Regions from separate parts of the Homo sapiens genome. Here region 1 is linked to region 2. The links come from fine-mapping of genetic effects on gene expression. A gene starts in region 2. The other region holds a variant in brackets. All regions are shown on one strand. Distances are between the middles of the regions. Region 1 has its middle 23 kb from the start of MIF-AS1. Region 2 holds the start of DDT (D-dopachrome tautomerase).

Region 1 (16,943 bases), 54 kb before region 2:
CCCGGACACAACGGAGCCATCCAGCGCCCTCAGAGGCCCTGGGCACACGGGCAGATGGTCACCGCCTCCTAAGGGAGCAGCGCGCGCCCGTTGCTCGCTGCCCGTTGGTTGTTGCTGGTAGCTCCGGAGGGCGGGGTTGGCGAGGAAAGTGAGTCCGTATGTCCCCAGCATGCTCCGCGCGGGGGCGGGGCTCTAAGGGGGCAGGCGAAGGCGGAACTGGCGTGGTCAAACCAACCTATCAGCCTCCAGCATGCTCCGTGTGGGAGCGGGGTTCCCGGGGGCGGGGCTTGGTTTGTGTGCCCTTCCGGCGTTTCGCCCCTGCGTTCTCTGAGATGCTCCCACGCAGATGTATGGGCCTAATTCGCTAATATCCACTCTATATCCTGTTCCATCCTCTTGTAATGGGCGTTTGGAGTGTTGCCAATTTTTTGCTGTTATAATGATTGTAATAGCATATTAAAAAACTTGAACATAGTTTGATTGTAATAACATTAAATATAGCATCTTAAACATACAGTTTGAGCGTGCCAACCTGATGGGTGTGGAATGTAATATTCATTATAACTTTGATTTTCATTTCCCTACTTTGAGTAAGTTTGAACTTCTCTTTATGTAATTATTGACTACTCTGTTTTCATGTTCTGAGAATTGCCTGTTTGTATTTTATGCCCATTTTTCTATTGGGTTGTGGTTTTTATTGATTGGTAGTTCTTTATAATTTTATGGATACCAGTCTTTTACTAGTTCAGCGCATTAATTGCAAATATTTGCTCCCACTCTGTGGCTTGCTTCCTTTCCACCCCTAATTCCTAGGGTGTCTTTTTGAAGCACAAATCTAAAATTGTAACACAGGCGACTATCAATCTTTTCCTCTATGATTTGAGCATTTTGTGTTTTGCTTAAAAACTCAGCCCTTGTCCCAAGGTCATAGAGATATTCTCCCGTATTTTCTACTGATCCATCCCCCATATTTAGGTCTTTGGTCCATCTGTATTAATGTTTATGTGTAATATGAGATAGGGATCCTACTTTATCTGTATTGTGTTAACCAAAAAATGACTGAGACAGGTGTCTCAATCAATAAAGGTTAATTTAGCCAAAGTTTGAGGACATGCCTGGGAAAAACACAAGTCTCAGTTCCTAATATTAACCGCTTGCATTTAGTAGAAATGACCTTCAAGGTTCTCTGTAGCAGAGATGTGGTTGAAAAAGGAAAGGAAGACATAGGGTTTGTAGATGGCCATAGCTTCACGGAAGAGCGAAAGAAGGGCAGGATATGTGGTTCTCTCCCTATGGAAAACCATAGAGGCCAAAAGCTTCCCTGCCCAAACTTCAGCCCCAAAGACTCAGATAATAGCCTTAACCAGAGCCCTGGCATGAAGAAAGGACAAGGCCTTGACTGTTTATACAGACTTGAGATATGTGCTCACTGTGATCCATGCCCATGGTGCAATCGGGTACGAAAGGGGACTTCTGAATGCCAATAACAAATAAATCAAATATGAAACATAAATATTGGCACTACTGCACAGTGGAAATGACTAGACAGATTGTGGGGGTCATCTAATGGGGGACTTTGAACTAATGAAGGGGAGCAACCTGGCACACACAGGGAGGGAAAGTCCCTGCTTCCTTCAGTACCTCTTTATGAATATAAACCAATAAACCAAGACACTCCCCTGGGGAATTACAGGAAGCCATGCGAGAGGGAGAGCATCAGAGTTCCCTCTCAGAGGGATGGGCCCTAAATAAGAGAGGCAGGATTTGGGTGCCCAGAAATCTGAGTTGGGCTATTATAAAGCCTGCCCATGATCTCTCAATCTATGGCAAGAAGACTATGCACACCTAGCTCCTCAGGATAATAAGGACCCCAAAAGCAAAGAAAATGATGGATAAAGTGGCTGACCAATGTGTCTATTGTCAGAGAAACAATGCTCAAAACAGACCTCCCATATCTCCCTTGGCCAAGGTGGTACAATTCAGGGGAACCATGTGAGGGGAGGACTAGCAAATTGACTCCAGTGTTATGCCTATGTCTTCTAGAGGATTTAAATATCTCCTGGTGCTTTTCTGATGCCTTTGCTGGTTGGATAGAGGCTTTTCCATGCTGGACTGAAAAGGCAGAAGCCATGAAGTCTTTACTAAAGGAATTTATCCCTCCATTCAGTCTCCCTAAGTCAGTCCAGAGTGCTAATGGACCCGCATTCATTTCTAACATAGTAGTAAAAACTTCCCAGGCCTTGGTCATACAGTGGAAGTGGCATGTAGCCTGGAGACCAAACTCCTTGGGAAAGACTGAAAGGTCCCATAGAACTCTCAAAGGTATCCTAGCCAAGTTATGCCAGGAGGCCCAAGATAATTGGTTAAAGCTGTTACCCATAGCCTTGGTCCAAGTATGGGTAGCACTCAGAGAAAGAATGAGACTTAGCTCCTTTGAAATGCTATATGGGGCTGGGCACAGTGGCTCATGCCTGTAATCCCAGCACTTTGGGTGGCTGAGGCAGGTGGATCACTTGAGGTCAGGAGTTTGAGACCAGCCTGGCCACATGGTGAAACACCATGTCTACTAAAAATACAAAAAATTAGCCGGGTGTGGCAGCATGTGCCTGTAATCCCAGCTACTCAGCAGGCTAAAGCATGAGAATCGCTTGAACCTGGGAGGCAGGGGTTGCAGTGAGCCGAGATCACGCCACTGCACTCCAGCCTGGGCGACAGAGCAAGACTCTGTCTCAAAAAAAAAAAAGAGAAAGAAATATTATATGGGGCCGGGTATGGTGACTCACACCTGTATTCCCAGCACTTTGAGAGGCCCACTGGTGAAGAGGATCACTTAAGCCCAGGAGATCGAGACCAGCCTGGGCAACAGAACAAGACTCTGTCTCAAAAAAGGAAAAAAGAAAGAAAGGAAAGGGAAGGGAAGGGGAGGGGAGGGAAGGCGAGGGGAGGGAAGGTAAGATTATATGGGGCCGGGCGTGGTGACTCACACCTGTATTCCCAGCACTTTGAGAGGCCCACCCGTGAAGAGGATCACTTAAGCCCAGGAGTTCGAGACCAGCCTGAGCAACATAGTGAGACTTCCTCCCTATTTAAAAAATAATAATAAAAACCAGGCGTGGTGGTGCGCACCTGTAATCTCAGCTACTTGAGAGGCTGAAGGAGGAACACTGCTTGAATTCAGGGAGGTCAAGGCTGCAGTGAGCTGTGATGACGCCACTGCACTCCAGCCTGGACAACAGACCCAGTCTCCAAAAAAAAAAAGAAATGTTAATATGTAAGGCCTTATCCAGGCGTGGCCAGCCCCTTCTCTTGCCCAGATGAGGAGATAGAAAGGGTGATGAAGCATATTATGTTATTCATCTGGAGTCATTTGTTGCTATTCTCAACCACCTCAGCAACCCCAGCCTCCTGGTCCCCTCTGGGGTAAAACTTCATCTGTACAACCCAGGAGACTGGGTATACCTCAGGACCCAGAAGGCTGAGTACTCCCAGGACCAGCTCAGCCCGCTATGGATGGGGCCCAACCTAACACTTTTAACCACTCATTCTTCTCTTAAACTCCAAGAAGTAACCCCTTGGATCCATCACTCAAGAGTGAAGAGGCCAGGCATGGTGGCTCACGCCTGTAATCCCAGCACTTTGGGAGGCAGATGGGGGAGGATCACTTGAGGCCAGGAATTTAAGACCAGCCTGGGCAACATGGTGAGACCTTGTCTCTACAAAAAGTAAAAGAATTAGCCAGGCACCGCTAATTGGTGGTGCACGGAGGCTGGGGCGGGAAGATCCCATGAGCTTAGGCGTTTGAGGCTGCAGTGAGCTATGATTGAACCCCTGCACTCCAGCCTGAGTGACATAGAGAGACTCTGTCTCAAAAAAAAAAAAAAAAAGAGTGAAAGCCCAGGAGCCCCCAGAAGATGCCTCCCCAGCATACATTTGTGAACCCATCTCAGACCTCAAATTGGTTTTTAGAAGAAAAGGCTCAGATAAGTCAAGTGTGCCCCTTGCCATTCTCTTGCCATAGTAGGCATCTTCTTTATCCCTGCAGGAACCCTCATGCTGTTGCCCTTTTACACTGTGGAGATGCTTAGGTGGTGGCAAATCCCTTCATAAAACACCTAAAAATGGCCCCTATGCTTTTTGGCCTTTTTTTTTTTTTTTTTTTTTTTGAGATTGAGTCTCACTCTTGTCGCCCAGGCTGGAGTGCAGTGGCGCAATCTCGGCTCACTACAACCTCTGCCTCCCAGGTTCAAGTGATTCTCCTGCCTCAGTCTCCCAAGTAGCTGGGTCTACAGATGTGCGCCACCATGCCCAGCTAATTTTTTTATTTTTAGTAGAGACGGGGTTTCACCGTGCTGGCCAGGCTGGTCTCGAACTCCTGACCTTTTGATCCGCCCACCTCAGCCTCCCAAAGTGCTAGGATTACAGGCGTGAGCCATCGCACCCAGCCTGCTTTTTGGCCCTTTTAGTTGCCTTGGCCAGTGATCTCTGGGAGGCCAATATAATAATCAAGGTCTCCTGTATCACAGCTGGTGGGAACAATCTGTTCAAATGTTGGATGTGCCATAGGCTTCCCCACACTTGGATGGGGTGACCTGTTGCTAATCCTTTGAGAGGAGTCATTAACATCACAGGGTTGTGTGGACCTCACCTGCTAAGGGCAATGTCACTAAGAGAATAGGCCAAGTTTATTTAAATTGCTCAGGAAAAGGAGAAAAGAGGCAAACATGCTACAAAAGAGTATTTGCAGTGGCTCACCCTTGTTTCGGCAATGTAATATGCCTAGGACAGTGTACTGTGGGCTTCTGGGGCCTATCAGGGTAACAGCCCATAGTGCAACCAGCCATCATAAGAGACCAAAAAAAAAAAAAAAAAAGGACGGGGGCTATTGGACAAACCATGGAAGCTGCCGGACTTGCTGTGGGGTTGGCTGCCCTTTCTTGCGGGGGGGTTGCCTGTTATGAAGTCACCCTAAGAAATTTAATCTGAATACCCAAGGCTCTGGCAGCTAAAACTGGAGAGGCTCTCTAAAATATATGTATTTCTCTAAATTCACTAGCCAATGTAGTGTCAGAAAAGCGATTGGCCTTAGACTATTTACTAGCAGAACGGGAGGGCTGTGTGTGGCACCAATACCTCCTGTTGCACTTGGGTAAATGCCTCCAGAGGAAATAGAGGCTAATGTAAAAGAAATATTCAACACTTTGGGAGGCCAAGGTGGGTGGATCACTTGAGGTCAGGAGTTCAAGACCAGCCTGGCCAACATAGTGAAACCTGGTCTCTACTAAAAATACAAAAAAATTAGCTGGGCATGGTGGTGCACGCCTGTAGTCCCAGCTACTCAGGAGGCTGAGACAGGAGATCGCTTGAACCCAAGAGACAGAGGTTGCAGTGAGCCAAGATCGTGCCACTATACTCTAGCCTGGGTGACAGAGCGAGACTCTGTCTCAAAAAAAAAAAAAAAAAAAAGAGAGAAAGGGGCCGGGTGCGGTGGCTCAAGCCTGTAAGCCCAGCACTTTGGGAGGCTGAGGCGGGTGGATCACGAGGTCAGGAGATCGAGACCATCCTGGCTAACACAGTGAAACTCCGTCTCTACTAAAAACACAAAAAGTTAGCCGGGCGTGGTGGCGGGCGCCTGTGGTCCCAGCTACTAGGGAGGCTGAGGCAGGAGAATGGTGTGAACCCGGGAGGCGGAGCTTGCAGTGAGCCGAGATCCCGCCACTGCACTCCAGCCTGGGCGACAGAGCGTGACTCATCTCAAAAAAAAGAAAGAAAGAAAAAAAAGAAAGGAAATATTTAAACAAGTAGAACAGCTGCATTCCTTCAACCAGAAGGGTAGCTCAACCAACGAGCTATCTTGGAATGCAGTGAAGTCTGCTGTACCTCACTTCACCTCGTTTCTTCCTCTGCTGTGGCCTCTAGTGGCCTCTGTTCTGTTACTTTTCGGTCCCTGTATTTTAAATTGATAGTACAGTTTGTGTCCTCATTTTGTGTAACAGCAGCAATACCAGCTCCTTTGAGCAACTTCAGATGACTAAAAAACTTATTTGAACTCAGGAGCCTGAGAATTTCACTCCTCTAACTTTAGTAGCCTCACTGTTCCCTGTCAGCATGAAGTAGACAGAGAAGAATGACCTTCATCCCTAACCGCTCAAGAATGAGGGGTGGGGTGTTTCAAGGGGGATTTGTAACTGTGTCCAACCGAATCTGGCTCAGCTTTTCTGTGTGTGTGTGTGTGTGTGTGTGCGCGTGTGTGTGATGGGGTCTTGCTCTGTCAACCAGGCTGGAGTACAATGGTGTGATCACAGCTCACTGCAGCCTTGACCTTCCAGGCTGAAGTGATCCTCCCACCTTAACCTCCCAAGTAGCTGGGACTACATGTGTGTGTCACCATGACTAGCTAATTTTTAAAATTTTTTTGTAGAAATAGGCTTTTGCCATGTTGCCCAGGCTGGTCTTGAACTCCTGGGCTCAAGCAATCCTCCCATCTCAGCCTCCCAAAGTGCTGGGATTATAGGTGTGAGCCACGGTGCCCACTGTGGCTCAACTTTTATGTAACAAAGTCAAAGTTGTGAGTTTTTTTTCAGTTGCTGTGGATCCTCAGGTTGAAGGTCACTTACCCTGACTGTGCCCAGATGAACCAGGTATGCAGCTCACAACTTTGTTACATAAAAGTTGAACCAGATTGATCTGGTATGGTTATACAACTACACTGAGAGGGAGACAGTTAACATGGACTCACACATCTCAGAGACATTGTGAGTCTCCCTCAATATTTTCCTAAGTTCTTAAAGCTGACTTAGATTCTGTAGCCTTGACCCAAGGTTCCACTCTTGCCAATATGTTGATCTTTTACTTTGAAAATATACTAAGCAGGCTAGGTGTGGTGGCTCACGCCTGTAATCCCAGCACTTTGGGAGGCCGAGGCGGGTGGATCACCTGAGGTCAGGAGATCGAGACCATCCTGGCTAACACGGTGAAACCCCATCTCTACTAAAAATACAAAAAATTAGCTGGGTGTGGTGGCGGGCGCTTATAGTCCCAGCTACTCGGGAGGCTGAGGCAGGAGAATGGCGTGAACCCGGGAAGCGGAGCTTGCAGTGAGCTGAGATCGCACCACTGCATTCCAGCCTGGATAGAGC[G/A]AGACTCTGTCTCAAAAAAAAAAAAAAAAAAAAGAAAGAAAAAGAAAAAGAAAATATACTAAGCAGGCCAGGCGTAGTGGCTCATGCCTGTAATCCCAGCACTTTGGGAGGCCGAGGCGGGCAGATCACCTGAGGTCAGGAGTTCGAGACCAGCCTGACCAACATGGCAAAACCCCATCTCTACTAAAAATACAAAAAGTAGCTGGGTATGGTGGCACATCCCTGTAGTCCCAGCTACTCAGGAGGCTGAGGCAGGAGAATCGCTTGAACCTGAAAGGCAGAGGTTGCACTGAGCCAAGATCATGCCACTGCACTCCAGCCTGGGTGATAGAGTGTGACTCTGTCTCAAAAAAAAAAAAAAGAAAGAAAGAAAAATAAAAGAAAATATACTAAGCAGGATGCTCTTACAGACTTCCTCCTTCTCCTAAAGGTGCTGGCTGAAGAAGGCCATGAAGCCTTCTAATCTAAACTCAGTGGGTACAAACAACTATTACCTACTTGGGACATGAGCTATCTCAGGGCATTCAGAAGCTCACCCCCAAATGTCTTAAGTCAATTTTGTTTATCTCTCTCCCCAAAACAAAAAAAAAAACAACTTTATACGGCTGGGCGCAGTGGTTTCATGCCTGTAGTTCCAGCACTTTGGAAGGCCAAGGTGGGAGGATTGCTTGAGCCCTGGAGGTTGAGGCTGCAATGAGCCATGATTGCACCACTGCATTCCAGCCTGGTGACAAAGCAAGACCTTGTCTCAAAAACAAACAAATAAGCCAGATGCAGTGGCTCATGCCTGTAATCCCAACACTTTGGGAGGCCGAGGCAGCGGATCACAAGGTCAAGAGATCCAGACCATCCTGGCCAACATGGTGAAACCCTCTCTCTACTAAAAATACAAAAAATTAGCTGGGCGTGGTGGCGGGCACCTGTAGTCTCAGCTACTCGGGCGGCTGAGGAAGGAGGATCGTTTGAACCCAGGAAGCGGAGTTTGCAGTGAGCTGAGATTGCACCACTGCACTCCAGCCTGGCGACAGAACGAGACTCCGTCTCAAAAAACAAACAAACAAAAACTACAAAAATTTCCAGTGACAGCTGGCTATTGTCACCAATGGATTTCTAATTTTGCTGCCCTTGCCAAACCTCTGTATGCCCTCCTTGAAGACACCATCCCAGCACCCATTTTCTGGCCCTGAGAGGCACTAACCTCCTTTGTAGCCTTAAAATTAGCATTTCCCATACCTCTGATGTTGGCTTACTGAATTTTGACTAATCTTTTCACTTCTATTACCATGAAAATAATGGAATTGCTGGAGGTATTCTATGCAACCTTTTGCCTCTCAGATATATCCTATATTTCTCATGCCAATTGAATCCTGTGGCAGCAGGCCTGCCCTCATGCCTGCATGTGATGGCTGCAGCTGACTCTGTAACTGACAAAGCCAGCACTCATGTTAGGCTTATCCATTTTCTGTTATGTTCCCCATGCTGTCCATCTTCCAAGTTCATAAGACATAGTACCTCTCCACATGGCAATAGACCTATGAACAGGTCCTATTAACCAAACCCTCCATTATCTTACATCATTGTGCCACTGTAAATCTGGCTACTCGGCTAGGCATGGTGGCTCATACCTGTAATCTCAGCACTTTGGGAGGCTGAGGCGGGTGGATCACTTGAGCCCAGGAGTTCGAGACCAGCCTGGGCAACATGGCAAAACCCTGTCTCTACACAAAATACAAAAATTAGCTGGGCATGGCGACACATGCCTGTGGTCCCAGCTACTTAGGAGGCAGAGGTGGGAGGATTGCTTGAGCCCAGAGGCAGAGGTTGCAGTGAGCTGAGATTGCATCATTGTACTCCAGTCTGGGCAACAGAGTGAGACTGTCTCAAAACAAAAACAAAAACAAAAACAATCTGGCTACTCTATTAGCCCTCCCTGATGATGGAGAACCCTACTCCATTCCACATGATTGCCTTCCAATGATAGAAATGGTCTCAAGGTCATGAGACCTGTTGTGCACCCTTTAGACAACACAGACTCACTCCTATTTTGTGATGGCTCCCATAAACGAGGTTTCTGGGGGAACACAATAACTGCTATGTCATAGTTTCCCCACAGGAAACACTTGAGGTCCTGTTTGCCCACAGTAGAGTAAACCCCAGGCTGGGGAATTTATAGCTCTTATTAGAGCTTGCGCATTGGCAGAAGGGAAAACTGCCACTATTTATACCAACTCCAGTTGGAGTCTGCTGACCATTGGTGCAATCTGGAAATCCTGAGAATTCTTTTTTTGGAGAGATGGGGGTCTCAGTATGTTGCCCAGGCTGGTCTTGAACTTCTGGCCTAGAGCAATCCTCCTGCCTCAGCCTCCCAATGTACTGGGATTACAGGCATGAGCCACCATTCATGACCAATCCTGAGAATTCTTAAACGCTACTGGTACTCCTGTTACCAATGGGCATATAATTCTTGCCCTACTACAGGCTATTCACCTCCCAAGAAAAATTGCTGTTGCTCATTGTTTAGCCCATACTAAGGAGACTGATGCTATATCTTTTTTTTCTTTTTTTTTGAGATGGAGTCTCGCTCTGTTGCCCAGGCTGGAGTGCAGTGGCACGATCTTGGCTCACTGCAACCTCCACCTCCTGGGTTCAAGCGATTCTCCTGCCTCAGCCTCCCGAGTAGCTGGGATTACAGGCACATGCCACCACACTCGGCTAATTTTTGTATTTTTAGTAGAGACGGGTTTCACCATGTTTGCCAGGATGATCTTGATTTCCTGATCCTGTGATCTGCCCACCTCAGCCTCCCAAAATGCTGAGATTACAGGCGTGAGCCACCACACCTGGCCCTGATGCTGTATCTCTAGAGAATGATAGGGCCAACAAGGCAGCGAAATACACAGCCAGAAATGGATCCCCCCACCATCCTTTTTCCATGCAATTTATCTGTGTCTTTATCCCTGACTGATATTATTGATTATTGTTAGTATTACCAGGCAAATGCCCCACAATCTGAAAAAGACAAATGAATTCAAAAGGACAGCAAATAATTACCAGACAGATGATACATTGGACCAAATAGACTTCCCGTGGCTTCCTTTCTTTTGACCTTTTGGCTTGCACTTATCAAATGGGACATATGGAGATGGAGGATAGCAAAGGAACTAAAATATAATTAGTTCTACCCTGGCATCCACAAAACTTCTGGCCACACTGTTTCCCAGTGCACAACTTATAAATCTCATGGAATCTCTGGAGGAAACCAACATTCCTCGGGGAGTCCTCCAAGGCCCACACTGCCCCTTGCAGGACTCCAGATGGATTTTGTTGATTTACTTCTGGCTTTAGGGCATTCCCACTGTTTGGTTACTGTCTGAATGTTTAGTGGATGGATTGAATGCCACCGGACTGGATGTGCTGATACCACAACACTGGTGAAGAAATTAATAACTCGGCTGGCCAGGGAGGCTCACACCTGTAATCCCAGCACTTTGGAAGGCAGAGGTGGGCAGATCATGAGGTCAGGATTTTGAAACTAGCCTGGCCAACATAGTGAAACTGTGTCTCTACTAAAAATACAAAAAAATTAGCTGGGCGTGGTGGTGGGCTCCTGTAATCCCAGCTACTTGAGGCTGAGGCAAGGAGAATTGCTTGAACGTGGGAGGTGGAGGTTGCAAAGAGCCGAGATCGCACCACTGCACTCCAGCCTGGGCAACAGTGAGAGACCATGTTGGAAAAAAAAAAAGAAATTAATAACTGAGATTATTTCTCATTTTGGCTTTCTGTTACAGATTAAGTCAGACCAAGGAACTCATTTTACAGCAGAAATAAACAATTCGATTGCAAAAAAAAAAAACTCCTTTGGGGTACTCGTTAAAATTTCACACCCCATACCACCCCCAATCCTCAGCTCAAGTGAAATGTAAAAATTTAGACATAAAAAGGACATTAGGCTGTGTAAGATACAATGAATTTCTCTGAGTTTCTCTTCAAAGATTTAGCCTGCTAACTTCCTTGTCCTTTGTTCTCAAACTTAACTTTCCTGTTCCTCCTTGCCCCTAGTTACTGTAAAACAGCTTACCCCCTTCCCACCAGCTCTAATCAATAACTCACATCCTTTCCCTTGGTTATCTGTACGCGTTGTTCCCCCAAAACTGCATGTCTTACATGCTTCACCACTGTACCTCACGTACACTTTCCCTTCCATATTTAGAACAATATTTGCAAGTAGCTAATTGGATCAGCTCAGATTGTGCAGTCCAACCCCAGCCCATGGGGGAGTGACACAGAGGTAAGGACTATGCATCAGAGATAAAAACCCCCTGCTCCCCTTTGTTTGGTGTGCTCTTGCGATCTTGATTGACGGGAGTGGCACCCTTCTGCAGAAGTAAATTGCCTTGCTGTGAAAACTTTTGCCTGAGTGCTGGTTTCACTTTGTGGCACCAAGCATTTATTCCTGGAGCATTTTTATATTCAACAGGCTGGGTGCGGGGCTCACACCTGTAATCCCAGCACTGTGGGAGGCCCAGGTGGGCAGATCACTTGAGGTCAGGAATTCAAGACCAGCCTGGCCAACATGGTGAAACCCTGTCTCTACTAAAAATACAAAAATTAGTTGGGGGTGGTGGCACACCCCTGTAATCCCAGCTACTTGGGAGGCTGAGGCAGGAGAATCACTTGAACCTGGGAGGCAGAGGTTGCAGTGAGCCAGGATTGTGCCACTGCACTCCAGCCTGGGCGACAGTGTGAGACTCTATCTCAAAAAAAAGAAAAAGAAAAAAAGACGTTAGGAAAAATCTGTCAGGAAACTGAATTGAAGGGAGGAAAAACATTACCTCTTGTTGCCTTTTACCCCTTATGAAGTTTAGAATGCTCCAAATGGGAGGCGTGGATTAACTTCTTTTGAAATAGTGCTTGGTTTCCCTTTGCCTATTGGCATCTCTAAACCTTTCATTCCTGCATTGAGTGATCCCTGGATTATGGGGACTTCTTAAGTGAACAATGTGATGCTATGACAGCTACATAAAGGAACTAACTAGTAATCTTGGAGCATATAAATCATCAACAGGTAAAAAGGGCATAGCTTCTGCCAACTAACAAGCCTTGCCATCCTTTTTGACCAGGAGATTAGGTGTAAATCAAGGCTTTTAGAAGAAAGCATGCACTGTCACCAATGTTTTGGTCAACGATGGACCGAATATACAATGGTGTCCCCATCAGATTATAATGCCGGTGAGCCACCGCACCTGTCATCCTAGCACTTTGGTAGGCAGAGGCGGGTAGATCATTGAGCCCAGGAGTTTGAGACCAGTCTGGGCAACATGGTGAAATCCTGTCTCTACAAAAAATACAAAATAAACCAGTCATGGTGATGCGCACCTGTAGTCCCAGCTACTTAGAAGGCTGAGGTGGGAGACTCACCTGAGCCCAGGAAAGTCGAGACTGCGGTGAGCCATGATCATGCTACTGCACTCCAGCCAGGGCAACAGAGTGAGATCCTGTCTCAAAAAAAAAAAAAAAAAAAAGAAAGAAAGAAAAAAAAGATTATAATACCATATTTTTACTGTAGCTTTTCTATGTTTAGATATGTTTACATACAAAAATACTTATCATTGTGTGGGCTGGGTGGGCAGCCGATTGCGCAGTGCGGGGACTGATAGGCGAGCCAGTCTGGACCCCCATCCACTCACCCACCCCTCTGGGGCTACCTGAGGACTCTGACCACCCACCCCCCACCGCCTGGTGCCACCTGATGGAGCAAGATTGTCTAGCTTGGGGCCACCAACGCCGTAGATGAGGCTGCCAGGAAGGGGTTGGGGGCACACGAGCATCCCTCTCTGCCCTCGCCTCCCCCACTCCTCCACCCTGGCCTGCTGTGACTCCCTCCGGAGCCCGACGCGGACTTCCAGTAGTAGTCAGACGTTATCATCCTGTCATATTATGGAGCCATGTTCATCATGAATTTTTCCAAGCCCTGAATTATGCCGAACAAACATTTAAAAAAATGGAAAACTGTTTGAGACATAAACAGTTGTGCGATGTAATTTTAGTTGCTGGTGATGGCAGAATTCCAGCTCACAGATTGGTGCTCTCCTCTGGCTCAGACTATTTTGCTGCCATGTTTACTAATGATGTCAGAGAAGCAAGACAAGAAGACATAAAAATGGAAGGTGTAGAACCAAATTCATCGTGGTCCTTGATCCAATATGCTTATACAACCCGCCTTGAATTAAAAGAAGATAATACTGAGTGCCTGCTATCTACAGCTTGCCTTCTTCAGCTTTCACAGGCTGTAGAAGCATGTTGTAAATTTTTGTTTGTTTGTTTGTTTTGAGACAGAGTTTCGCTCTGCCGCCCAGTGTAGATCTCAGCTCACTGCAACCTCCGCCTCCCAGGTTCAAGCAATTCTCCTACTTCAGCCTCACGAGTAGCTGGGATTATAGGCGCCTGCCACCACGACCAGGTACTTTTTTGTATTTTTAGTAGAGACGGGGTTTCACCATGTTAGCCAGGCTGGTCTTGAACTCCTGACCTCAGGTGATCCGCCTGCCCTGGCCTCCCAAAGTGCTGGGATTACAGACGTGAGCCAGGGCACCAGGCCACATGTCATAAGTTTTTAATGAAACAGCTTCACCCATCCAGCTGTCTTGGAATTTGTTCTTTTGCTGATGCCTAAGGTTGTACAGATTTGCATAAAGTGGCTCACAATTATACTATTGAGCATTTCATGAAAGTAATCAGAAACCAGGAATTTGTATTATTACCAGCCAGCAAAATTGCAAAGTTCTTGACTAGTGATGACATGAACATTCCTGATGAGACAATATTGACTCCACTTCTTACTTGGGTCTGTCATGATTTGGAACAGAGATGGAAAGATCTAAGTAAACTTTTGGCTAATATTAGGCTACCTCTTCTTTCACCACAGTTCCTGGCAGACATGGAAAATAATGTACTTTTTTGGGATAATATAGAATGTCAGAAACTCATTATGGAAGCAATGAAGTACCATGTATTACCAGAGAGATGACCCACGTTACAAAGTCCTCAGGCAAAATCTAGGAAATCAACTGTTGGTACATTATTTGCAGTTGGGAGAATGGATTCAACAAAAGGAGCAACAAGCATTGAAAAGTATGACCTCTGTACAAATACATGAACTCCAGTAGCAAATATGAATGAGAGGAGGCTACAGTTTGGTGTCGCAGTGCTAGATGACAAACCGTATGTGGTTGGAGGAAGAGATGGACTGAAGACTTTGAATACTGTAGAGTGCTACAACCCCAAAACAAAAACAGGGAGTGTGGTGCCACCTATGTCCACACATAGACATGGCCTTGGTGTGGCTGTACTGGAAGGTCCCATGTATGCCGTAGGAGGGCATGAGGGCTGGGGCCATCTGAACACAGCGGAAATTTGGGACCCTCAGGCTCGCCAGTGGAATTTTGTTGCCACTGTGTCTACTCCTAGGAGCACAGTTGGTGTGGCAGTGCTAAGTGGAAAACTTAATGCAGTTGGTGGTGGTGATGCAAGTTCTTGTCTCAAATCAGTAGAATGTTTTGATCCTCATACTAGTGAGTGGACTGTTGGTAGAAGAGCTGAGGCAGGACTGGCTTGTCTGTCATAATGTAAAAGAGTCTTGAAAGATGTCCGGGGTCCACGGCCTAAAACCCCTCATGGCCTTTGGTACACCAAGCTCTGTGCCATAGGGTGGAAGGCTGCCCTGCCGCAACACAAATCTAAGCCCAGGGCATAAAACCCCGTGTGGCTTGGATGGAACCCAGGGCTCAGGGCATAAAACTCCTCATAGCCTCTGGAATGTGCACAGACTTGTTGGTTCCTTGCTTCTTACTCGTAAACATGTCCTCCATTATCTCAAGTAGCAGAGCATATTCTACATGCATCAAAGGAAGTGCTAAGCTGTCACAGCTACGCTTAATGCACCACTAGCTTTCTATCCCCACGTTCTCATGCCCTCACCTGTTTACCCTCACATCCTCACCACCTGCTTCTTTGTTTGATCACCAATAAATAGTGTGGGCTCCCAGAGCTCGGGGCCTTTGCAGCCTTCAATCTAGTGCCGGCCCCCCGGACCCACTTTATGCACTTTTAACTTATCTTTTCACATTCCTCTGACCCCGCCAGACTTTGTAGCCCCCACGGCCTGGTGTTAGGCCTGATCACCCCAACATGGACACTGTGTGCACGGATGTCAAAAAGGAGAGGTGGCATAGGAGTAACGACCCGGAGCGGACTGCTGTATGCTATAGGGGAACATGATGCTCTCACATCCAACTTGACTTCCAGACTCTCAGATTGTGTGGAGACATCTGATCCCAAAACAGACATGTGGACTACAGTAGAATCAATGAGCATCAGCAGAGATGCAGTGGAGGTCTGTTTACTTGTTGATAAGTTTTATGCTGTTGGGAGGTATGATGGACAGGCATACCTGAATACAGTGGAGGCTCATGATCCCAGACAAAGAGTGGACCCGGGTTGCTCCACTGTGCCTAGGAAGAGCTGGAGCTTGTGCTGTGACTGTAAAATTATAATTTAGTGCTCTGTTTTCTACATGAAGACACTCTCTTCCTTTATTAATTTAGTACAATTATTCTACCATCAATGGATGCATTTTTAGTAAACATGCATTGCCACAATCCTGGGCACAAAGTACCTGATCTCAAAGCAAAGATAGTAAAACAACGGAGGAAGGAGTGGATGGACCAGGATTAATTGCTTTCAATTCTTAGTAAATGAAAACCTGCAGCTGGTGGATTGTGAACAAACATTCCTGATGTAACATATTAGGACAGATGCACTGCTCTGGAACATAGCCCAGTGCTAGCTGGGGATCTCATTTATTCAGTCAAGCACATCTTACTCATGCGGGTGGCAAGCCACCCAGGTGCCGAGGCAAGAAACCGAGGGCACGAGCTGTTCCAGTATAATAAAATATATAAAATAAGAATAGTTATACTAGATATAGATCTTAGATATGATTATATATATATCATTAATCATTAGTTTGCAGCAATTATTCTTTATTCCAATATTATAATAATTCTTGCTCTACAATCATAACCTAGGAAAAACCAGGCCATACAGAGATAGGAGCTGAGGGAACATAGTGAGAAGTGACCAGAAGACGAGTGCGAGCTTTCTGTTATGCCCGGACAGGGCCACCAGAGGGCTCCTTTGTCCAGCAGTAGCGCCAGCATCTGGGAAGATGCCCGTTGCCAAGCAGACCCTGGTCTAGCGGTAGCGTCAGTGTCAAGGAAAAACACCTGCTACTTAGCAGACCGGGAAAGGGAGTCTCCCTTTCCCCAGGGGATTTTAGAGAAGACTCTACTCCTCCACCTCTTGTGGAGGGCCTGACATCAGTCAGGCCCGCCTGCAGTTATCCGGAGGCCTAACTGTCTCCCTGTGATGCTGTGCTTCAGTGGTCATGCTCCTAGTCCACCTTCATGTTCCATCCTGTACACCTGGCTCTGCCTTTTGGATAGCAGTAGCAAATTAGTGAAAGTACTAAAAGTCTCTGATAGCAGAAATAATGGTGTAAGCTCTCTCTCTCTTTCTCCTCTCTCTCTCTCTGCCTCGGCTGCCAGGGAGGGAAGGACCCCCTGTCCAGTGGACACATGACCCACGTGACCTTACCTATTATTGGAGATGGCTCACACTCCTTACCCTACCCCTTTGTCTTGTATCCAATAAATATCAACACAGCCTGGCATTTGGGGCCACTACCGGTTTCTGCATCTTGGTGGTAGTGGTCCCCTGGGCCCAGCTGTCTTTTCTCTTATCTCTTTG
Region 2 (11,866 bases):
TGTGGTGCGTGTGTATGTGTGCGAATGTCAGTGAACTGTGTGTGAGTGAATTGTGTGTTTATGTGTGGGTGTATATGTGTGTGATGTGAGTGAACTGTGTACATGGGTGTATACGTGAATTTTAGTGAATTGTGTGTAAATGTGAGCAGTGTGAATTTGAGTATGTGGGTGGATAAGTGAATTGTGATTTTGTTGGTGTGAATTGTGTGCCTGTGTGTGACGGGGAGTATGTGTGTGTGTGAGTGAACTGTGTGATGACTATGAATGTCAGTGAATGCTGTGATTGTGTGTGTGTGTGTACGTGTGTGGGGATTTGGTCTATATGTGTGAATTTGAGTTGTGTGACTTTGTTGGATGTGAGTGAATTATGTGACTGGGTGTATATGTGTGTGTACATGAGTTAACTGTGTGTAAATGGTATGATTGTATATGTGTGTGAATGTGATGAATCGTGACTAGATGCGGGTGGATGTGTGTATGTGCATGGTGTGTCCATGAGTGTGTAAGTGTGCAGGTGGCACAGTTGCAACAGGAGAGAAGACACAGGAAGCCTTACCTGCCATTCATCCCCCCAGCTGTCCTCCCAGCCTGGGGACCCCTGGGCTGGAAAGGTTATGAAAAGTGGTGCTACTGCCAGGAAGGGGTGATGGGGCAGCTGGGAGGACGGTTTGAGTCTTGCCAAAGGGAGGGAGTCGAAGCTTGCAACCCTGGGGAGGAGGAGGGGCAGACTGGGGACCCTGCTTCTGGAAAACCAGCGACCAACCCCCAAAGGGACACAGGCAACCCCTGCCTCCACTCTACAGTGGGGAAAAGGGGAGAGTGGCGTGGCAGGCTGCCCAGCCAGTCATGGAGGGAGTAGACTTCAGGAGGAGTACAGAGGTCTGGTCCCATTTTGGGGCTGAGGACAGGAGCCTCAGGTCAGCAGTCTGCAGGAAGGCCCCAGCTGGACCAGCTGCTCACACCTTCCCACAGGCCTGCAGATGGGTGTGGAGAGCAGAGCCTCCAGGCTGAGTCTCCCAGCCCCAGATCTGAGCAGTCTAAATCATCCCCCTCCAGGTTCCCTACGGTCTTATCCACCAGCCCTGCTGCCCATGGTGGCCCCAGATGCCCAGGAGAGATAATAGAAGGTAAGAAGTCATGTTTGAATGAGGAAGCTCTCTTCATTTATTTCATATGAGGATGAAGAAGAGGATTATGTGATCACAGGAATGTTGCATGCGGGATAATCCAAAGCTGGTTATCTCCAGGCCCTCACTCTGCCAAGAGATCTCTCTGGAAGAAGCAGCCAGTTCACAGATGCCCTGGATCCCTCCGTGCCCAATCATAAAAAAGTCATGACCGTCCCTATCTTGCCAATCTGCCAGGACTCCAAGGGGAAAAAGCGGATAAGTATCCTTCAGGAGACAGAGAAAAAGATATCATCAGCTCCTTGGCTAATACCACATCTTGCAAGACCCCTGCCAGGTACTCCCACTGTGGGTACTCAGGACAGCCTGCCTCAGTCCACCAGGCATTTTGCAAACCTGCTCATCCCAATAATGATTTTCCCCAACCCCCAGCAGGGCAGTGGGACACTCAGGTGTGGGAGGTAGCCGCACATCATGACCCAGCTAGGACAGACACACAATACAGTAGCCTCGGTGTGTGTGCCGTACACTCTATCATCTCCATCAGTTTGTGTACTGAGGGGTACCCTGCCTCCTAATTGCAGGCTCCCTAAGGGCACAGTACCTCAGCCACCTGTTTTCTCAAAGGCTGAGCACAGGGTGACCCCCCACCCCACCAACCCCGCCACTAATGTCTGGGCCATAAGTGAACATGCCCCTCTCAGAGGTAACAGCAAGTTTCCAGTGAGGAAAACCAGAACTTGGGACAGCCTGGTTGGGGCGGGCGGGAGTATGAACAGCCTGTCTTCTCATCATAAAATTGGCATAATGGAGATTATCTACCTCATGGGGATAGCATGTCTTGTCTGAGCAAAGGGAGAGTGGATAGGGATTGTAAGGATCAAATGGGATCATGAGTGTAAAGTACCTGTAGAGGACCTAGCACATGGTAAGTGTATAACACTTGTTGTTAGAGTAACAGTTTTCCCTGAGTATCCGTGGGAGATTTGTTCTAGAATCCCCAGAGGAAACCAGAATCTACATTTGCTCAAGTCCCTTACATAAAATGGTGTAATATTTGCATGTAACCTACACACATCCTCTCATATACTTTAAATAATCTCTGGGTTACTTATAATACCTAATATAATGTACGTACTATGTAAATAGTTGTATTGTTTAGGGAATAATGACAAGGAATAAAGTCTATACGTATTTTCAGTATAGATGCAATTATCAATTTTTTTTCCTCTAATATTTCAATCCATGGTTGTTTGAATCAACAGATGCGTAACCCAGTGATACAGGGGGCTGACTGTATTATTCCTCTGTAGCTTGAGGGAGGACCCAGCAGGATCAGCCATTCCTCATCGACCTTCATGGACTAACAAAGGCTCCATTTCAGAAGGTCTTTTTTTGTGAGCCAAGGTCTCACTGTCACACAGGATGGAGTGCAATGCGCAATCATAGCTCACTGCAGCCTCAACCTCCTGGGCTGAAACCATCCTCCCACTTCAGCCTGCCAACTAAGTGAGACTACATGTGCACACCACCATGTCCGGTTAATTTTTAAAACTGTTTTGGGGGATGGCATCTCACTATGTTACCCAGACTGGTCTACAACTCCTGGGTCAAATGAACCTCCCGCCTTGGTCTCCCAAAGTGCTGGGATTACAGGCATGAGCCACCGTGCCTGGACAGTGTCCTTTCAAGCTTCTCATGCCCTTACTTCCTCCTAGACATGGATGTGGCTCAAGAATATCTTTTACCCAAGAGGAAACTTTAACTCGGTCACAGAACGCCAGGTTTGGGTTGCAGACGCTTCTTGTGGGGGAGGGAGGTCTTTTCCCCTGTATTCACAGAAGAGGAGGTTGCCAACTGGAGATGGTTCATTTCCAAGTTTGTCTGGGGTCCCCCAGCTATGCAGGACCCAGAAAGCAGATGTCTAGACATCCAGGCCAATGGTCTTTCACTACTCTGTGAGTCTCCCGTGAACTTCACCTGGAACCTGGCTGGGACACAGGTCCAAAATACGTAACTTCAGAACATACCCAGAATTCCTTCTGACCAGCCTGGAAAAGTTCTAGAAAATCACACTTCAGCCACGTGTACCTACCCTGTCAGGTGCCAAGGCAGGTACAGCACACAGACAATCCCACATGACCCTTGCACTGCCCCGGGGGTGTTAAAAGAGAGCCTTCCCGGTTCACAGACTTACACACTGAGGAGCAGAGCCAGAAATTCATTCAATCCTGCTCGCACTTTGAAGATGGTCCTAACAGCAGGAACCTAAGGGGTCAGGGGGCCCCAAAGCTCCAGACCCTGATGTGTCCTTACTGGGCAGGGCAAGAAATGGGTTTTTCCCCCTGAGGCAGGATCAGTGGCTCCAGTCTGCGGCAGTCCCACATGGATCCCCTACTACCCCTACGCACCGGTCCTGGCCCAGGGCTAGCTCCTTGGTGAGAAACTCAAAGAAGTGGGCGCTGTGGCTGCGGTTGTCCTCGGCGGTGCCCACTACGCCGATGGAGGAGATGGACAGCTGCGCGCAGGGCTCGGTGGACCCGCTCAGCGCCATGGCCAGGCCCGGCCGTACCGTCACGTTCACGCGCTGAGGGGGACATGAAAAGTTTTGCCCGAAGTTGGAGCCGGCCGGGCTACCTCTGGGGACGGGACCCGAGCGCGCGAAAGCCGAAACGCGCAGTGTTCGCGGGGCAGGGATCCCGATACGGGCCGCGGTCCCTGAAGGTCACGCCCGGGTCATGACTGGGGAGGGCGACAAGGGAAAGACGTGCGGAGGGGGAGCCGCGGGATCGTGGAGCACGGAAAGTCAGAGCTTGGCGTGAGGAAAGGAGTGGGGAGTGGTCCCTGGGGAAAAGATTCGGGGTCACTGTCGGGGAGGCGGAGCAGGGACAGGGCCGGACCCCTGGCCCACCAACCTCCCCTCGCCCCGTGCTGCCCGGCCCACGCTTACGTCCGCAGGTTTGCCCAGGATGGAGGCAGCGGCGGCGCAGAGTCGTTTCTCCAGCCCCGCGGGCACTCGGTTGGCGGGCAAATTCGTGTCCAGCTCCAGGAACGGCATGGCGGGCAGAGGAACGGAAACAGCTCTGGCGGAAGAAAAGCTGGGGGTACCCAAGGCTCGCGGACCAGGGAGGAGGGGCGAGGCGCCACAGCAACCTGGCTTCTCATTGGCTGGACAGAGACTCGGCGCTCCCCGATTGGCTGCCTAGGGTACCTCCCGCTTCTGCAAACAAAAGTCACGTGTGCCGGCTGATTTCCGGAAGTCCCATCGTCTCCGCCCTACGTGTAGCCCCACCCACTACAGGTCTTTAACCCGGTAGTGGACCCACCCTGTCTCCCCCGACCCTCCTGCCTGGCGCCAGGTGGGTTTCCCTCTCAAGCTTCCGCGCTGTGGTCGCCCGGTTCCTAGCCCTATTAGAGGTCTGAACACCACACCCCCGACACACAAGGACACACACACACCTATAGGGGTCTTCCCCAGGCTCGACCCTAATAACCAATACAACGGGAGCTTAAAGTTTTTTTGAATGATTTGCCACCATTTCGAAGTCAGGCAATTTCATGTTCAGTATGGAAATCTGCGCTTGGGCAGTCAGGAGATGTGGTTACTCGCGGGGGCGCGGGTAGGGCTAGGCTCACGACAATACCTGTCCCTGCCTGGTCCCCATTGACATCTGCCTGTGTAGCCTCTTGTGCCGGTGGTGAGCCACTGTCCACCAGGGGGTGGCAAAATATGTTCTTTAAAACATGGAAAGGCCGGGCACGGTAGCTCACGCCTGTAATCCCAGCACTTTGCGAGGTCCAGGCGGGCGGATCACCTGAGGTCAGGAGTTTGAGACCAGCCTGGCCAACATGACGAAACCCCGTCTCTACTAAAGATACAAAAATTAGCCGGGCGTGGTGGCAGACGTTGTAATCCCAGCTGCTCGGGAGGCTGAGGCAGGAGAATCGCTTGAACCGGGGAGGTGGAGGTTGCAGTGAGCCGAGATCGCGCCATTGCACTCCAGCCTGGGTGACAGAGCGAGACTCCATCTCGAAAAAACATCAGAAAACATGGAACTCTGTTGGCGTGGCTTAAACATGAGTGTGGTCAGTGTGGCAAAATCACTTGAATTGTACATTACAAATATGACTGAAGTTGTGGTCGAGCAATGTGGCTCACACCTGTAATCTCAGCACTTTGGGAGGCTAAGAAGGGAGGATTGCTTGAGCCCAGGAGTTAAAGATCAGGCTAGGCAACATAGCAAGATTCTCTTCTTTATTTTCTACAAAAAAAAAAAAAAAAAGAAGAAATCTGGGTGCTGTGGTGTGTGCCTGTAGTCCTAGCTACCTGGGCGGCTGAGGCAGGAGGATTGCTTGAGCGCAGGAGATCTAGGCTGCAGGGAGCTATGACTGTGCCACTGCACTCCACCCTAGATGACAGAGTGAGACCCAGGCTCCCCCCTCCCCCACAAAAAAGAAAGAAAAAATTTGCAAGTTTATATGTACAATTTCAACTACGTGTATAAAATTCTCTATAAGTGTGCATACTTAAAGGAGCCTCCACTGAAAGGCCGACAGAGTCTCTGTCTGTCATGATCTTGTCCTATTAGCAGTTTGTTTATTAGATGACTCAGATATCAGAAGGTCTGAGACACACGACAGGTAAATATGACAGTCCTAAGGGGAGAGGGCAGGGACAGGTGGCAAGTCTGGGACCAGGTGTGGGGCATGGACAAGCCAGTGGTCCGGGAGTGGGGTGTAGAGAAGACTGTGGTCAAGGTTATGAGGAGGCATGGGAGAGGGCCAGGAAATAACCAGGGACTTCCCTTCCTGCAAGGAGGTTCATGAACCAGCCCTGCACCCCACTTGTGGAACACAACATCGCCCCACAGTGAGGAGAGAGACCGAGGAGACCAAGGCTGATCCTGATTCAGACATCTTTCCACCAGGTCACCCCTCATCGATGATACATGCTCAGTCCGGGGGTATCCCCCGCAAGGAAACACTGGGGCTGAGGAGCCCAGAGAGGTCGCCTGACCTGGACTGGGGCTGGGGAGGTCAGGGAAGTCTCCCTGGAGAAGAGACAGGGTGCCAAATGCCAAAAGACCAGGAAGGGCACCAGGCGAAGATGAGGAGGGAACAGCATGAGCGGAGGCCAAGAGGCCAAGGTGGGAGCCCAGAGAGGGGTTAGGAGTGTGCAGGCAGAAGGGGCCACCTGGAGGAGTGGGAGCAAGGCCTTGAATGCAAAGTTCAATGACTTGTACTTTAGCTTCTGGGCAGTGAGGAACCATACAAAGTTCCACACAGAAGGTCAGGGTCAAGTAAGCGTTTGCCCAAGCTCTTTTCAGAGGTCACATGGAAGCTAGAATGGAATGGGGTAGGAGACAAAAGGAATGCAGGCATGATATCTGGAGGAACTGTGGACCAGAGCCTTTGCAGATATGTCTTCTCTTCAACCAAGGAGACGGACAGCTCCATGTCTTTATTCTACCAACACAGCATCCCCTCAGTGGCTCAGCAAGTGTGGGACACGCACTCACAGCAAGAAAAGCTGCATTAAGGTCTTCAGATTCTCTTTAACAGCAGGTTCTACTGGAGGCAGGTCCTTGGCCTTCAGGACAGCTGGGAGGGCCTCCTGGAAGAAGTCCTCCCGCACTGCAGCCTCCACGTGTTGGGCACCATGCTGCCACCGTGGGTCTGCTTTCAAAGACTCAGCAGCCAGCACTGATGGGCTAGGGGAAGACAGAGTCAGCGGAGGGGCTGGGCATAGCCAAGTGTAAGGCAGCATGACCTGCTTTAGGGGTTCTCTGATTGGATTTTCCCTCCTCCACCATGTGTGTGATGGGCTAGGATGTCCCCCTCCCTGGGGACACTTGGAAGCCTCTTAATATAGCTGCGGTGAGGGGTTTGTAAAGCCCCATTTTATAGATGAGGACACTGAGGCTCAGAAGGAGAAGTGACTCACACAGGGTCCCACAGCCAGAAAAGACAACATGAGCTGGGATGTCAGCTCCCTTCCCGGATACACCACTGCCCAGCGGGCCACCGCACCCCATGGCACTCTCATGCCTCAGCTCCGTGATTGCCACCAAGCCAGCCACAGAGATACGGGGCCCAGTAAGGAAGGCCTGGTCCCGCAGGAACTTGTCCTCGAGCAGCTGCAGGCATCCGTCCAGCTCAGCCAAAGTGGCCGCCAACATCTCGGGTGGCACTGACTCGCCCAGGAACACAGGGATTATTATCTGGTGGGCCGACAGGCAGAGAGAGGGGTCAGGGTCTGCCCAAAGCCCATCCTGGTTCCCACCATCATCCTATCATCACCAGTCCTTGGGATTTCTGCTCACCTCTGCTCACTTCTTTCCACTCATAGCCACCAGTAGCTCTCATCTCCTACTCAAACAGGGACAGCCTCCCCCTTCTCCCTGGGTCCTCACACAAGGCAACCAGTGGGATCCTTCTGTAATCTCAATCTGCCCGTACCCTCTCTTGCATAAAGCCTTCCATGGCTCCCCACTGCCCTCATGAGAAAGGCCTCAACACAAAGCCAGCCTTCTCCAGTGCGGTAGCCATCCCCTCCCCACTTTTCACCTCACCTCCTACTACCCCCCACTTATCAAACGGGAATGTGTGTATGAATCCTCCCTGGAATCTGGTTACAGTTTATGCTCCCAATCAGTAAGGTCAGAGTGGGGCCTGAGCCTCTGCATTTCCAACAAGCTCCCTGGTGATGCTGATACTCCCAGTCCATTGACCACACTTTGGATAGGAAGAGTCTACACTTGCTCTACTCAACTTCTCTCCATTCTGTCCTCAAACACACCACGCTTCCTTCCCCACCAGCTGGAGGGGGCTCTGCTCCCAGGCCCCAGAGGTCAAGGCAGACACAGTTAAGGTGTGGAAACCTCCTTATTGCCCGATGGATCCTCCAGAGAGGCGGTCCCTTACTTTCAGCAGGGCGCGTGTCTACCTGTTTCATGCTGTCTCACACACAGGGTGCCACCCCTGTGCTGGGCACTGGGTAAGTGCTCTGTACATATTAATTAGGAGTACTCATTTCAAAAATATGTGTGCCTTTGATAAATAAAAACAGTATGTGCATGTTGTGTTGGTGTGTGCTTCCTTGATTATTACTGAAGTTAAACATGTTTTCATCCATGTATTGACCATTTCTCTTTGTCCTTCAATGAAACCTCTGCTGATTTCCTTCGCTCATTTTTTTCCTGTGTCTTCGTCTGATGAGTTTCTCTTCTTTTTGTTTGTTCGTTTGTTTGTTTTGAGACAGTCTCGCTCAGTGGCCCGGCTGGAGTGCAGTGGTATGATCTCAGCTCACTGAAACCTCTGCCTCCAAGGTTCAAGTGATTCTCCTGTCTCAGCCTCCCGAGTGTGCCACCGCACCCAGCTAATTTTTGTATTTTTAGTAGAGACGGGGCTTCACCGTGTTGCCCAGGCTGGTCTCAAACTCCTGACCTCAACTGATCCGCCCATCTCTGCCTCCCAAAGTACAGGGATTACAGGCGTGAACCACCACACCCTACCTGTCTGATGGGTTTCTAAGAACATCTTAAAGGACATTACTTCCTTCTGACGTATCTTTTACCGAGATCCTTCCCAGTTTTTTGCTTAAGGTTAATCCATTTTTTCCTCCACAAAGTAACCTTGTATATGTATTGGTTTTTTCTTTGTTGAGTTCTCCCACTGTTCTGAGGCTTAGAAAGTCCTTTCATACCCAGACATCAGAGAAACAGATCCCGTGAGAGTAACTGGGATTGCAGGTGTGGGCCAGCATGCCCTGTTATCACTCCCTTTCTCTGAGTCAGCTTTTCTCTCTCAGTCTCGTCTACTCCTCGAACTCAGGAAATGTCACTACAGGTGGCCCCAGCTCCCGTTTACCTCCCCATAGGGAGCTCCTCTCTCCAGTTCCAGTTTCAAAACTCCCAAGGAAGCATTCTGGTTCACTCGCTTGGGCCACTGGCCAGAGGGATGGGATACTCTGAAAGATTCAGCTAGAGTCCCGGGCCCAGCCCTGGACCATCACTGTGCCCCCTGGTGAGATGCCAGGGCTGGGATTCAGGGAGAAGAAAGGAGGTTCCCGGACAGTCATTCCTGCCTCCCGCGGCTGCGGGCTCCCTGCCCCCATCCTGTGCACGAAGTGGGAGCTCCCGCTGTCTGGCAGCTCCCGCTGTCTGGCAGCAGCTGCTCTGCAGGGGACAGTCTGGACGGCAGAAAGTTCATCCTTAACCCCAGCCTTCCAGTCAAGGTTCCCACCAGTTTGGGACACCTGCAAGTGTCACATCCCACTGGGTGAAACTCTAAGATCCCTTTTAGGGGATCCCATTCGCTCCCTCCCTTCCGCCACCATGCAGCGCCGAGAAACAGAGCTCTGAACGAACCCTCAGATGTCCGTGCGCTGGGGCCTTTCCAGGACGGCGGCGCCCAGTCGTTTCTGGGTCAGGGCGACGCCTGGAACTGGGCAGGGTCCCTGGCACCGGGATCCCGAAAAGCAGACCTGCTTCTCCCTGTCCAGCCGGTTCCCCTTCCCCTTGCAGTCGGCCCCCTGCATCCGCGTCCTCCCTGCCAGTCGAGGGTCCCCAGCTCCAACTCCACCCTCCCAGCTGTGCGTTCATAGCGACCGCCCTCCCTGTAGGGACGCACGGATCTGGTGGTGGAGTCTTGGCCGGCAGGACTGGACAGGAACCGAAGGGGCGAGGCGGGTCCGGGGGTGGTGCGCTCCAATTGGGTGCTGTCCCCAGGGGGTGGGGCCTGATCCCCTATTTCCCGGCGCGCCGGGATCCTGCCACAGCTGCTGCCCACACCGCGCTCAGCGCCTTCACTGCCATCCCCGCTGTCCTTGCCGCCCCCGCCATGGGCCTAGAGCTGTTTCTTGACCTGGTGTCCCAGCCCAGCCGCGCCGTCTACATCTTCGCCAAGAAGAATGGCATCCCCTTAGAGCTGCGCACCGTGGATTTGGTCAAAGGTGGGCCCAGCCCGTTTCCCCGCGTGTCCACAAACCCAGTGCACCCCCAGGCCCCCGCCCTGCTCTGCCCTGAGCGTCTCGCCGCCCGCACAGCCCCCTCACCTCCTCCTGCAGCGTCTGCCACCAGAGAATGCTGTGGACTGAGTGGCCTTGAAGGGATCACAGCCTCTCTGAACCTTAGCTTGCCTTCTGAAAAGGAGGATAATGTTACCTTCTGCTCTGTAGGGATGGAAAGAAAATACTGAATGGAGTTGACAGAGTTCTTGCGTGGAATGCACGCATATAAATTCACAAAGCCCAGAAGACCTCGGGAAGAAGGACATACTGTTGTGAGAATTAAGAGATGGGAAGAGATGAGCCACCCCAGTTTGCCTCCCCTCCCCTGGCCCACCAGAGTCCGGCTAGAAAACTTCTCTTTATCCACCTGCTGCACCTGGCCCCACCCACCAAAACCCCCCAGCTGCCCCGGAATGTGGCAGGGCAGGGAGGCCCAGCCAGGGAGTGAGGCTGATCCAGGCCTCTAGTCCCAGACCTTGCTGTTTCTCAGGGCTGTGGGGCTCCGCTTGGGGAGGAGGAGGGAGGGTGTAGAGGTGCAGCGTTTTTACTCTGAAGACCTTTTCTGACTTCTTCTTCTTCAGGGCAGCACAAGAGCAAGGAGTTCTTGCAGATCAACAGCCTGGGGAAACTGCCGACGCTCAAGGATGGTGATTTCATCTTGACCGAAAGATGCCCTCCTTCCCTCACCCCTCACCGCATCCGGAGCCCATGTGACCTTGGCTCTCCCCACTGGCCCCGGGCCCCAATGGCCCTCCCATACCCCATGGGGCAGCGAGGGAGGGGAAAGGCGAGGGATCTGGCCGGGCGCGGTGGCTCACGCCTGTCATCCCGGCACTTCGGGAGGCCAAGGCGGGCGGATCACGAGGTCAGGAGACCGAGACCATCCTGGCTAACACCGTGAAACACCGTCTCTACTAAAAATGGAAAAAAAAATTAACCGGGCGTGGTGGCGGGCGTCTGTAGTCCCAGCTACTCTGGAGGCTGAGGCAGGAGAATGGTGTGAACCCAGGAGGCGGAGCTTGCAGTGTGCTGAGATCGCGCCACTGCACTCCAGCCTGGGCGACAGAGCTAGACTCCGTCTCAAAAAGGCCGGGCGCGGTGGTTTACGCCTGTAATCCCAGCACTTTGGGAGGCCGAGGTGGGCGGATCACGAGGTCAGGAGATCGAGACCATCCTGGCTAACACGGTGAAACCCTGTCTCTACTAAAAATACAAAACATTAGCAGGGCGTGGTGGCGGCCGCCTGTAGTCCCAGCTACTGGGGAGGCTGAGGCAGGAGAATGGCGTGAACTCAGGAGGCGGAGCTTGCAATGAGCAGAGGTCGCGCCACTGCACTCCAGCCTGGGTGACAGAGGGAGCCCACTCCAGCCTGGGCGACAGAGGGAGACTCCGTCTCAAAAAAAAAGGAAAGAAAGAAAGGAGAGGTATCTGGGGAGAAGGTACAGCTTGGGGTGTGTCCGGGATGAGCAGGGGCTGACAGAACATGTCCCCCCACCTCTCATCTTCAGCCTTTTCTGAGCCGCAGGGCCTCTCCACTCCCAGACTGAAGGGTATTAGAAGAGAAGACAAGGGAACATTTTTCCACTGTTGCGCATTTGTTCAACAAATGCTAGCTGAAAAGAGCCTCTAGTGACTTGTCGCAGACTACCCAATCTACCCAGGCCGGGCCTAGAGGCCAATGCCATGGCCCAAGGGCACAGCTCATGGTGAGGTCCAGCTGCTGGGCAGG

Evidence for each region.
Region 1: its variant is fine-mapped to the expression of DDT in monocytes (Fairfax 2014, PIP 0.95).

The regions. Positions count from the first base shown.
Region 1 is chr22:23,913,890-23,930,832 of GRCh38, forward strand. It overlaps the pseudogene KLHL5P1. Among named protein-coding and RNA genes, the nearest start is that of MIF-AS1, 23 kb to the left of the region's middle. The variant G/A (reference allele first, on the strand shown) is at 7,137.
Region 2 is chr22:23,970,230-23,982,095 of GRCh38, forward strand. DDT (D-dopachrome tautomerase) reads right to left here and starts at 4,212. Exons shown (of 3, transcript NM_001084392.3): 1 at 4,078-4,212; 2 at 3,539-3,714; 3 at 1,141-1,394. The coding sequence starts at 4,185. The coding sequence ends at 1,322. DDTL (D-dopachrome tautomerase like) reads left to right here. Exons shown (of 3, transcript NM_001084393.2): 3 at 1,057-2,327. The coding sequence ends at 1,177. It also overlaps the pseudogene GSTT2.